Regions from separate parts of the Homo sapiens genome. Here region 2 is linked to region 1. A link means that fine-mapping ties the variant in region 1 to the expression of a gene that starts in the linked region. Tissue or cell type: cerebellar hemisphere. Region 1 holds a variant in brackets; the other region holds the start of a gene. All regions are shown on one strand. Distances are between the middles of the regions.

The links. PIP is the estimated chance that this variant, and not a neighbour inherited with it, causes the effect.
Region 2: CDC25B starts here. The variant in region 1 is the best candidate, but not a certain one, in a credible set for the expression of CDC25B in cerebellar hemisphere (GTEx, PIP 0.76).

Annotation. Positions count from the first base shown.
Region 1 is chr20:4,097,422-4,101,644 of GRCh38, forward strand. No RefSeq gene overlaps it. Among named protein-coding and RNA genes, the nearest start is that of SMOX, 49 kb to the right of the region's middle. The variant A/G (reference allele first, on the strand shown) is at 1,917.
Region 2 is chr20:3,793,754-3,797,976 of GRCh38, forward strand. CDC25B (cell division cycle 25B) reads left to right here and starts at 2,557. Exons shown (of 16, transcript NM_021873.4): 1 at 2,557-2,978; 2 at 3,869-3,996. The coding sequence starts at 2,779. RefSeq lists enhancers at 1,553-2,284, 2,195-2,354 and silencers at 2,585-2,654, 2,695-2,874, 2,941-3,148.

The sequences.
Region 1 (4,223 bases):
TTATCACAGGAATGCAACATTGCTCCAACATTGGAATAATTAATGTAGTTCACGACATAAATAGACTAAAAAAGAAAAAAAGGATCATTTCAATAGATGTAGAAAAATCATTTGACATAATTTCAAATCCATTTCTGGTAATACTCCCAGAAAACCAGGAAGAGAGGGGAAATTCTTCAACTTGATAAAGAGCATACATCTATGAAGAACCTTTAACTAATGTCATATTTAGTGGTGCATTCTCCCTCAGCTCAGGAGCAAGGCAAGAACGTGTGCTTATATTATTTCTACTTGAAATTGTATTGGAGGTGTATCCCATGCAAAAAGGTAAGAAAAAAAAGACATTCACATTGAATAGAAAGAAGTAAGACTATCTTTATTTGCAGATGATAAAGTCATCAAGTCATCTGATTGTCTAGAAAATCTTATGAAATTTCTACCTAGAAAATCTTATGAAATCTACAAAAAGCTACTAGAATTAATAAGTGGTTTAGCAAGATTGTAAGATACAAGATCACAATAAAAACATCAATTCATTTTATTTATTTATTTATTTATTTATTTATTTATTTATTTATTTTCAGATGGAGTCTCGCTCTGTCACCCAGGCTGCAGTGCAGTGGCAGGATTTTGGCTCACTGCAAGCTCTACCTCCCAGGTTCACGCCATTCTCCTGCCTCAGCCTCCCGAGTAGCTGGGACTACAGGTGCCCGCCACCATGTCCGGATAATTTTTTGCATTTTTAGTAGAGACCGGGTTTCACTGTGTTAGCCAGGATGGTCTTGATCTCCTGACCTCATGATCTGCCCGCCTCGGCCTCCCAAAGTGCTGGGATTACAGGTGTGAGCCACCACGCCTGGCACAAACATCAATTTATTTCCTTATACTAGCAAGGAATAATAGAAAATTGAAATGAAGCAAAACCATTTACAACAGCATGAGATACATAAAATACTTAAGAGCTAAATCTGACAAAAGATGTATGAGATATCACAATGAAAATTACTGATAGAAATTAAAGAAGATCTAAATAAAAGGAGAGATATAATGTGTTCATGGATAGCAAGACTCAATATTACAAAGTATCATTCCTTTCCAAATTGATCTGTAGATTCAATGCAATTCCAATCAAAATCCCAGCAGTCTTTTTTGGTGGAAATGTATAAGCTGATTCTAAAATTAACATAGAAGTGCAAAGGACTTGTAATAGCTAAAACCAGTTTGTAAAAGAAGAATAAAGTTGGATTTACACTACTTGACTTTAAGACTTAGAAACTGGCATTAATCAAGACAGTGTGAAATTGGCATCAAGAAAGAAAAACAGAACAATGAAACATAATACAGTACAGAAATAGACCTTCTCATATATGGCCGATTGATTTTTGACAGTGGTGCAAAGGCAATTCACTGGAGAAAGGGTAGTTTCTGTTTTAACAAACAGTGCATGAACATTTGTTTATCCATATACAGAAAAATGAACCTTTTATCTATACTTGGCACCATATAAAAATAAACTCAAAAGCGATCATAGACCTAAAACTATAAAACTTTAAAAATAAAACACAGGGGAAAATATTGTGATCTTGTTTCTGTTCTCTTTTTTTTGAGTCAGAGTCTCACTCTGCCACCGGGTCCAAGTGATTCTCGAGCCTCCGCCTTGCAAGTAGCTGGGATTATAAGCGCCTGCCACCATGCCCAGCTAATTTTTGTGTTTTTAGTAGAGACGGGGTTTCACCATGTTGGCCAGGCTGGTCTAGAACTCCTGACCTCAAACGATCGACCCATCTCGGCCTCCCAAAGTGCTAGGATTACAGGTGTGAGCCACCATACCCAGCCATAACTCCTGTTCTTTGAAAGGCACTTTTGAGAGAACAAAAAGACAAGCCACAAACTGGAAGAAGAATATTTGCAAGTTA[A/G]ATAACTGATAAAAGATGTATGTTTAGAATATTTTTTAAAAAACCTTTTAAAACTCAATATTAAGAAAACCAACAACTTAAACAAAAATGGGAAAACATTCTTCACCAAAGAAGAGAAACACATGGCAAATAAATTCACACAAAGATGTTCAATGCTCAACATTACTAGTCATAGGGAAATGCAAATTAAACCACAATGGAATATTACTATAAACCTCTTCCCTTTTATTTATTTATTTTTTTGAGATGGAGTCTTGCTCTGTCACCCAGGCTGGAGTGCAGTCGCGTGATCTCGGCTCACTGCAACCTCTGCCTCCCTGGTTCAAGCGATTCTACTGCCTCAGCCTCCCGAGTAGCTGGGATTACAGGCATGCGCCACCACACCCGGCTAATTTTTGTGTTTTTAGTAAAGACGGGGTTTCACCATGTTGGTCAGGCTGGTCTTGAACTCCTGACCTCAGGTGATCCGCCCACCTCAGCCTCCCAAAGTGCTGGGATTACAGGTGTGAGCCACCGTGCCCGGCCCTTCTTCCCTTTGTGTTAGAAAGATCTGATGTCACCACCTGAACTTATTTCCTGGGGCTGCTGTAGCAAATTATTACAATAATTTAAACAATAGAATAAACAATAGGATTAAAACAATAGAAAAGTATTCTCTCCGTTCTGGAGGCCAGAGGTCTGAATCATTGTGTCAGCAGGGTTGGTTCCTTCTGGGAGCTCTGAAGAAGAATCAGTTCCATGCCTCTTTCTTGGCTTCTGGTGGTTGCCAGCGATGCTTGGCATTCTTGGCCTTATAGACACATCACCAGCCTCTGCCTCTGTCATCACTTGGCATCCACCCTGAACGTCTCTGTGTCTTGGTGTCCAAATTTCTCTCTTGTAAGGACAGTATGGGATTAGGCCCACCCTAATCCAGTATGATTTCATCTTAGCTTGATTATATCTGCAAAAACCACTATTTTCAAATAAAGTCACATTCACCGGTACCAGGGGTTTGGAATTCAGTTTATCTTTTGGGGGGACACAGTTCAACTCACAACACGACCTTAACTAATAATCGAACTTGCATCATTTATAGTCAGACAACCAAACATTATGAGCTTCCTGATGTGATACATACAACATGACGTCATAGTGCCACCTTTGTATTCTTGCCAAAAATGTTTAACCCATATCTAATGAAACTGTTTAAATGAACTTCCAGGTTACAGGGAATATACAGGGTAGAGGAGTAAGTTAAATGACACCATGATAAAGCAATCTGACAAGTCCAGAGTAGGGGGAATATTCTGCAAGACAACTAGTGTGCTGTCCTCAAAAAGTCTATGTCAAGCCAGAGGCAGTGGTGCCTGTAGTCCCAGCTGCTTGGGAGGCTGAGGTGGAAGAATTGCTTGAACCCAGGAGCTGGATGCTATAGTAAGCTATAATCAAGGTCTCTCTCTGTGTTGTGCCACTGCACTCCAGCTTTATCAACATAGTGACCTCGTCTCTCTCTATATATACAAAGTCAATGTAGTGTCATGGGTTAAAAAATATGTGATGTGCCTGTGTGTGATCAGCACTGTTTAACAGAAACAAAGTGAACCACAAATGTGAGTCATATACAGTATGTAACTTTTAATTTTCTAGTAGTCACATTAAAAAAGTAAAGGCCAGGTGTGGTGGCTCACGCATGTAATCTCAGCACTTTGGGAGGCTGAGGTGGGTGGATCACCTGAGGTCAGGTGTTCAAGGCCAGCCTGACCAACATGGAGAAACCCTGTCTCTACTAAAAATACAAAATTAGCTGGGCGTGGTGGCGCATGCCTGTAATCCCAACTACTCAGGAGGCTGAGGCAGGAGAATCACTTGAACCTGGGAGGCAGAGGTTGTGGTGAGCCCAGATCGCGCCATTGTACTCCAGCCTGGGCAACAAGAGTGAAACTCTGTCTCAAAAAAAAAAAAAACCAAAAATGTAAAAAGAAACTGGTTAAATTAGTTTTAATAATTGTTACTAATTTATTAATATTAAATTAGAATAAATAATTAACCTAGTGTAATAGTTTTTTTATTACTGCTGTCATAAACTTATTAGTAATTTGTTATCTTACGGTGCTATAGGTCAGAAGTCCGATACAGGTCTCATCAGACTAAAACCAAGGCGTGGTAGGCTGTGTTCTTTTCTGGAGGTTCTGGGAGAGAATCAATTTCTTGCTCATTTGGGTTGTTGGCAGAATTTACTACCTTGCTGAGGTCCTTGTTTTCTTGCTAGCTGTACGCTGAGGGATGTTCTTAGCTTCCAGAGACTGCTGTATTTCTTGGCTTCTG
Region 2 (4,223 bases), 300 kb before region 1:
CCCACCCCACAACAGTCCCCAGAGTGTGATGTTCCCCTTCCTGTGTCCATGTGTTCTCATTGTTCAATTCCCACCTATGAGTAGAATATGCGGTGTTTGGTTTTTTGTTCTTGCGATAGTTTACTGAGAATGATTATTTCCAATTTCATCCATGTCCCTACAAAGGACATGAACTCATCATTTTTTATGGCTGCATAGTATTCCATGGTGTATATGTGCCACATTTTCTTAATCCAGTCTATCATTGTTGGACATTTGGGTTGGTTCCAAGTCTTTGCTATTGTGAATAGTGCCGCAATAAACATACATGTGCATGTGTCTTTATAGCAGCATGATTTATAATCCTTTGGGTATATACCCAGTAATGGGATGGCTGGGTCAAATGGTATTTCTAGTTCTAGATCCCTGAGGAATCGCCACACTGACTTCCACAAGGGTTGAACTAGTTTACAGTCCCACCAGCGGTGTAAAAGTGTTCCTATTTCTCCACATCCTCTCCAGCACCTGTTGTTTCCTGACTTTTTAATGATTGCCATTCTAACTGGTGTGAGATGGTATCTCATTGTGGTTTTGATTTGCATTTCTCTGATGGCCAGTGATGATGAGCATTTTTTCATGTGTTTTTTGACTGTGGGATTTCAAGGGATTCAATAGTATAATGCCTGCCCTGCCACATACACCCTGTGCAGATGTATATTGGCTGGGTGGGGGGTGGGGGGGATACCTGTTGTGTTTATTTTGAAAATGCAAATCTCGGGGCAGTTTTTTTTTTCTGGTTTTTGGGCTGGGTGGCTTTACAAGGACACTTCCCCCTTCCCTCCTGGCACTAAGGGCAGTCACATCCTCACTGGAAGTAGTGGCTGGAGGTCCAGGGCATAACCCCTGACCCAGGGAGGATGAACCGGAAATTCAGTCTTGCAGAGCCCTCTGCACAGCACAGGAGCTGGGCAAAATTTGGAGAAAAGGAAAGGTCACGTTCCCACCTTGGCCACCCCTCTCAGGTGGGGCTGGGGTCTTCCCCTACCCTTCAGATGCATTGGCCCACCCAGCCCCCCATCACCAGGCCCTCCCTTTTGCCACCCCCATCCAATGCACCTTGGGTCTGGGTGGCTGGGACTGCACGAGAAGGGGTACTCCTGCCTTGCTGAGCTGCAGCCCGCCCCCCGCACCACCACCCGCCCAGCCAGAGGCCACTTCTAACCTGGGGAGACAGGATGCGAAAGCTGCTCACTACCCACCGGCTTTTGGGTGCAGCCTTCAGGCCTCTTGTTCCAGGAGGCCTGGAAAACGAGCGGGGCTGGAAGGCATTTAGATAATTGGAAGATGGGCCGGGCACAGTGGCTCGTGCGTGTAATCCCAGCACTTTGGGAGGCCTAGGTGGGTGGATCACGAGGTCAGGAGTTCGAGACCAGCCTGGCCAATATGGTGAAACCCCCGTCTCTACTAAAAATACAAACATTAGCTGGGCGTGGTGGCGCGCTCCTGTAGTCTCAGCTACTCGGGAGGCTGAGGCAGAAGAATCGCTGGAACCCGGGTGGCGGAGGTTGTAGTGAGCAGAGATGGCCACTGCACTCCAGCCGGGTTGACAGAGGGAGACTCCATCCCAAAAAAAACAAAACAAAACAAAAAGAAAGATAATTGGAAGCTGCTCCGCTTAAAACGAATGACAAATTCAGCCTCCCTGGTCTGGTCATCAAAGAAACACCAATTAAATAATATGGTGCCATTGGCACCAAGTTAGCCAAATCATCAATGGGCGTGATACTTAATTCGCCTCTCTGGTTGCTGACACCCTCCTCGACCCCCAGCCGCGGAAATCCATTCCTAGTTCCACCGTTTAGAGCCTCTCCTGGGGCTGCCGCGAAAATTGGGCCGGTTGGGGTAACATCTAACCTGGGGTCCCGCGAAAGAGCCCATCAGTTCCGCTTGGGGGCCCCACTGCCCTCCCACCTCCTACGCTGGGCGCTTCTCCTGCGAATGACGTTTTGCTGCTGCTCAGCGCAGCCAGTCGCGGAGGCGGGGAGGCTGCGCGGTCAGAGGCGCCTGGAGCGAGCGAATCCTGGCCCACCGCCTGCCCAACCGCGTGACCTTGATTGAGTTAATGAACTTCACGCCTCAGCGTCCAGGTCTGTAAAATGGGGTGTCTAACGCAGACCGTACAGCCCAGCTGGGTTTAGCAAACTTCCGGGAGCCAGTTGGAGCCTCTCCCCATCCCTAGCGGTGATCCCAGGTGACGACATGCCGCGGGGGGTCCTGCGGAGGCCACCCTAGGGCGTTGCTGCTGCCTTTGGGAGTGTGGAGCTCCAAACCATGTCGCGAGAGGCGGATTTTGGGAGGCCGGGATCCTCGCGCCAGGGGGATGTGCGAGGGTGTGGGATAAATCTTAATTCCTCCGGCCCACCCAAAGCCTGGAAATCCAGCCTCCGCGCCTCTTGCCCTGCGGGCCCCGCCCTCAGTCCCGCCCTCATCTAACCCGCTACCCCATTGGTGGCGTCCGGCGGCGCGGCTGCTGTTATTTTTCGAATATATAAGGAGGTGGAAGTGGCAGCTGCAACTAGAGGCTTCCCTGGCTGGTGCCTGAGCCCGGCGTCCCTCGCCCCCCGCCCTCCCCGCATCCCTCTCCTCCCTCGCGCCTGGCCCTGTGGCTCTTCCTCCCTCCCTCCTTCCCCCCCCCCCCACCCCTCGCCCGCTGCCTCCCTCGGCCCAGCCAGCTGTGCCGGCGTTTGTTGGCTGCCCTGCGCCCGGCCCTCCAGCCAGCCTTCTGCCGGCCCCGCCGCGATGGAGGTGCCCCAGCCGGAGCCCGCGCCAGGCTCGGCTCTCAGTCCAGCAGGCGTGTGCGGTGGCGCCCAGCGTCCGGGCCACCTCCCGGGCCTCCTGCTGGGATCTCATGGCCTCCTGGGGTCCCCGGTGCGGGCGGCCGCTTCCTCGCCGGTCACCACCCTCACCCAGACCATGCACGACCTCGCCGGGCTCGGCAGGTAGGACACCCCAAGGAGGCTGCATATGGGGGTGAGAGGCTAGGTCTGGAGTCCTGGGCCTCCTGGAGAACTGGGCATGGTAGTCGAATCCAGGAGGTGGAGTCCGGGGAGGCATCCTGAGCAGTGGAGAGGTACGCCCTTGTTCCCTCCTAGGGGCCCAGGACATGGGAAGTGAGACCTGGGCTGTGCCCCCCACACCTCCAGGTGACCTGCTCTCAGTCTGCACAAGCCTCTCCAAATCTTCTTTCCCCTCACTCCCTCCTCCCTCATTGTGCCTCCACCACGCTGCCTCCGTAATCTCTGCCCGGATAGCCACCATTTTGCCCCAGGATGGGAATCTCAAGCCTGGAGAGGGAACTTAAGGGTGGCAGAGCCGTGGAGCACTCACACATCCATGCCCCTGCTCCCTCCACCCCAGTTCTGCCCCCAGAATTAAGACAATTAATTAAACACTGATCCTGCTCCCTAAGTCTGCAAGGGGAGAGCTGGGTTGTTCCAGTAGGAGAACCTGGTCTTGGTCCATCCTTCAGGAAGGGTCCTGGAAAGGTGGGGGTCTGACAGTTTAGGGGAAGGCTCTCTGGGGCGGCTCTGCTAGACCACCAACCCTTAGGCTGGCCTCCAGCCAGGCAGCCTTGCTCACACCCTGGGCTCACCTTGCCCTGCTCCTGAGAGGACCTTTCCTAAACCAGTCAACGAAGAGAAGACGCTTTAGGGCCTCTGTAGAATGAACCTTCCTTGACCTGAGAAGAGGGGGCCCTCAGGGCCATTGCTTTCCCGGTGTAGTGTTTCGCTCAGTTCTTTTCTCAGCAAGGGAGTGGGAACGTGGGCTAGCCAGGCCTTGAGCCCCACGTTTACCTTTCTCCTTTCCCGGGTCCCTGTTCCCTTCCCAGCGAAACCCCAAAGAGTCAGGTAGGGACCCTGCTCTTCCGCAGCCGCAGCCGCCTGACGCACCTATCCCTGTCTCGACGGGCATCCGAATCCTCCCTGTCGTCTGAATCCTCCGAATCTTCTGATGCAGGTGAGGCCCAGGGGAGCCTGGGGAGATCTGCCTGTGTCAGGAGAGTTTGTGGGGGCTGCCTGGGCCTCCCAATTTCCCTGCCGATCAAACTAACATCCTCCCCACAACCTGGTGGGCCCAGGAGCCTCTCCCCCACCCTCCACAGAAATGGGAGGAAGACACACCTCTTGTGGGGCTCACCACACCCAACGCGGACTGGCTGAGTGGATGAGAGGGTGGGGCCCTCT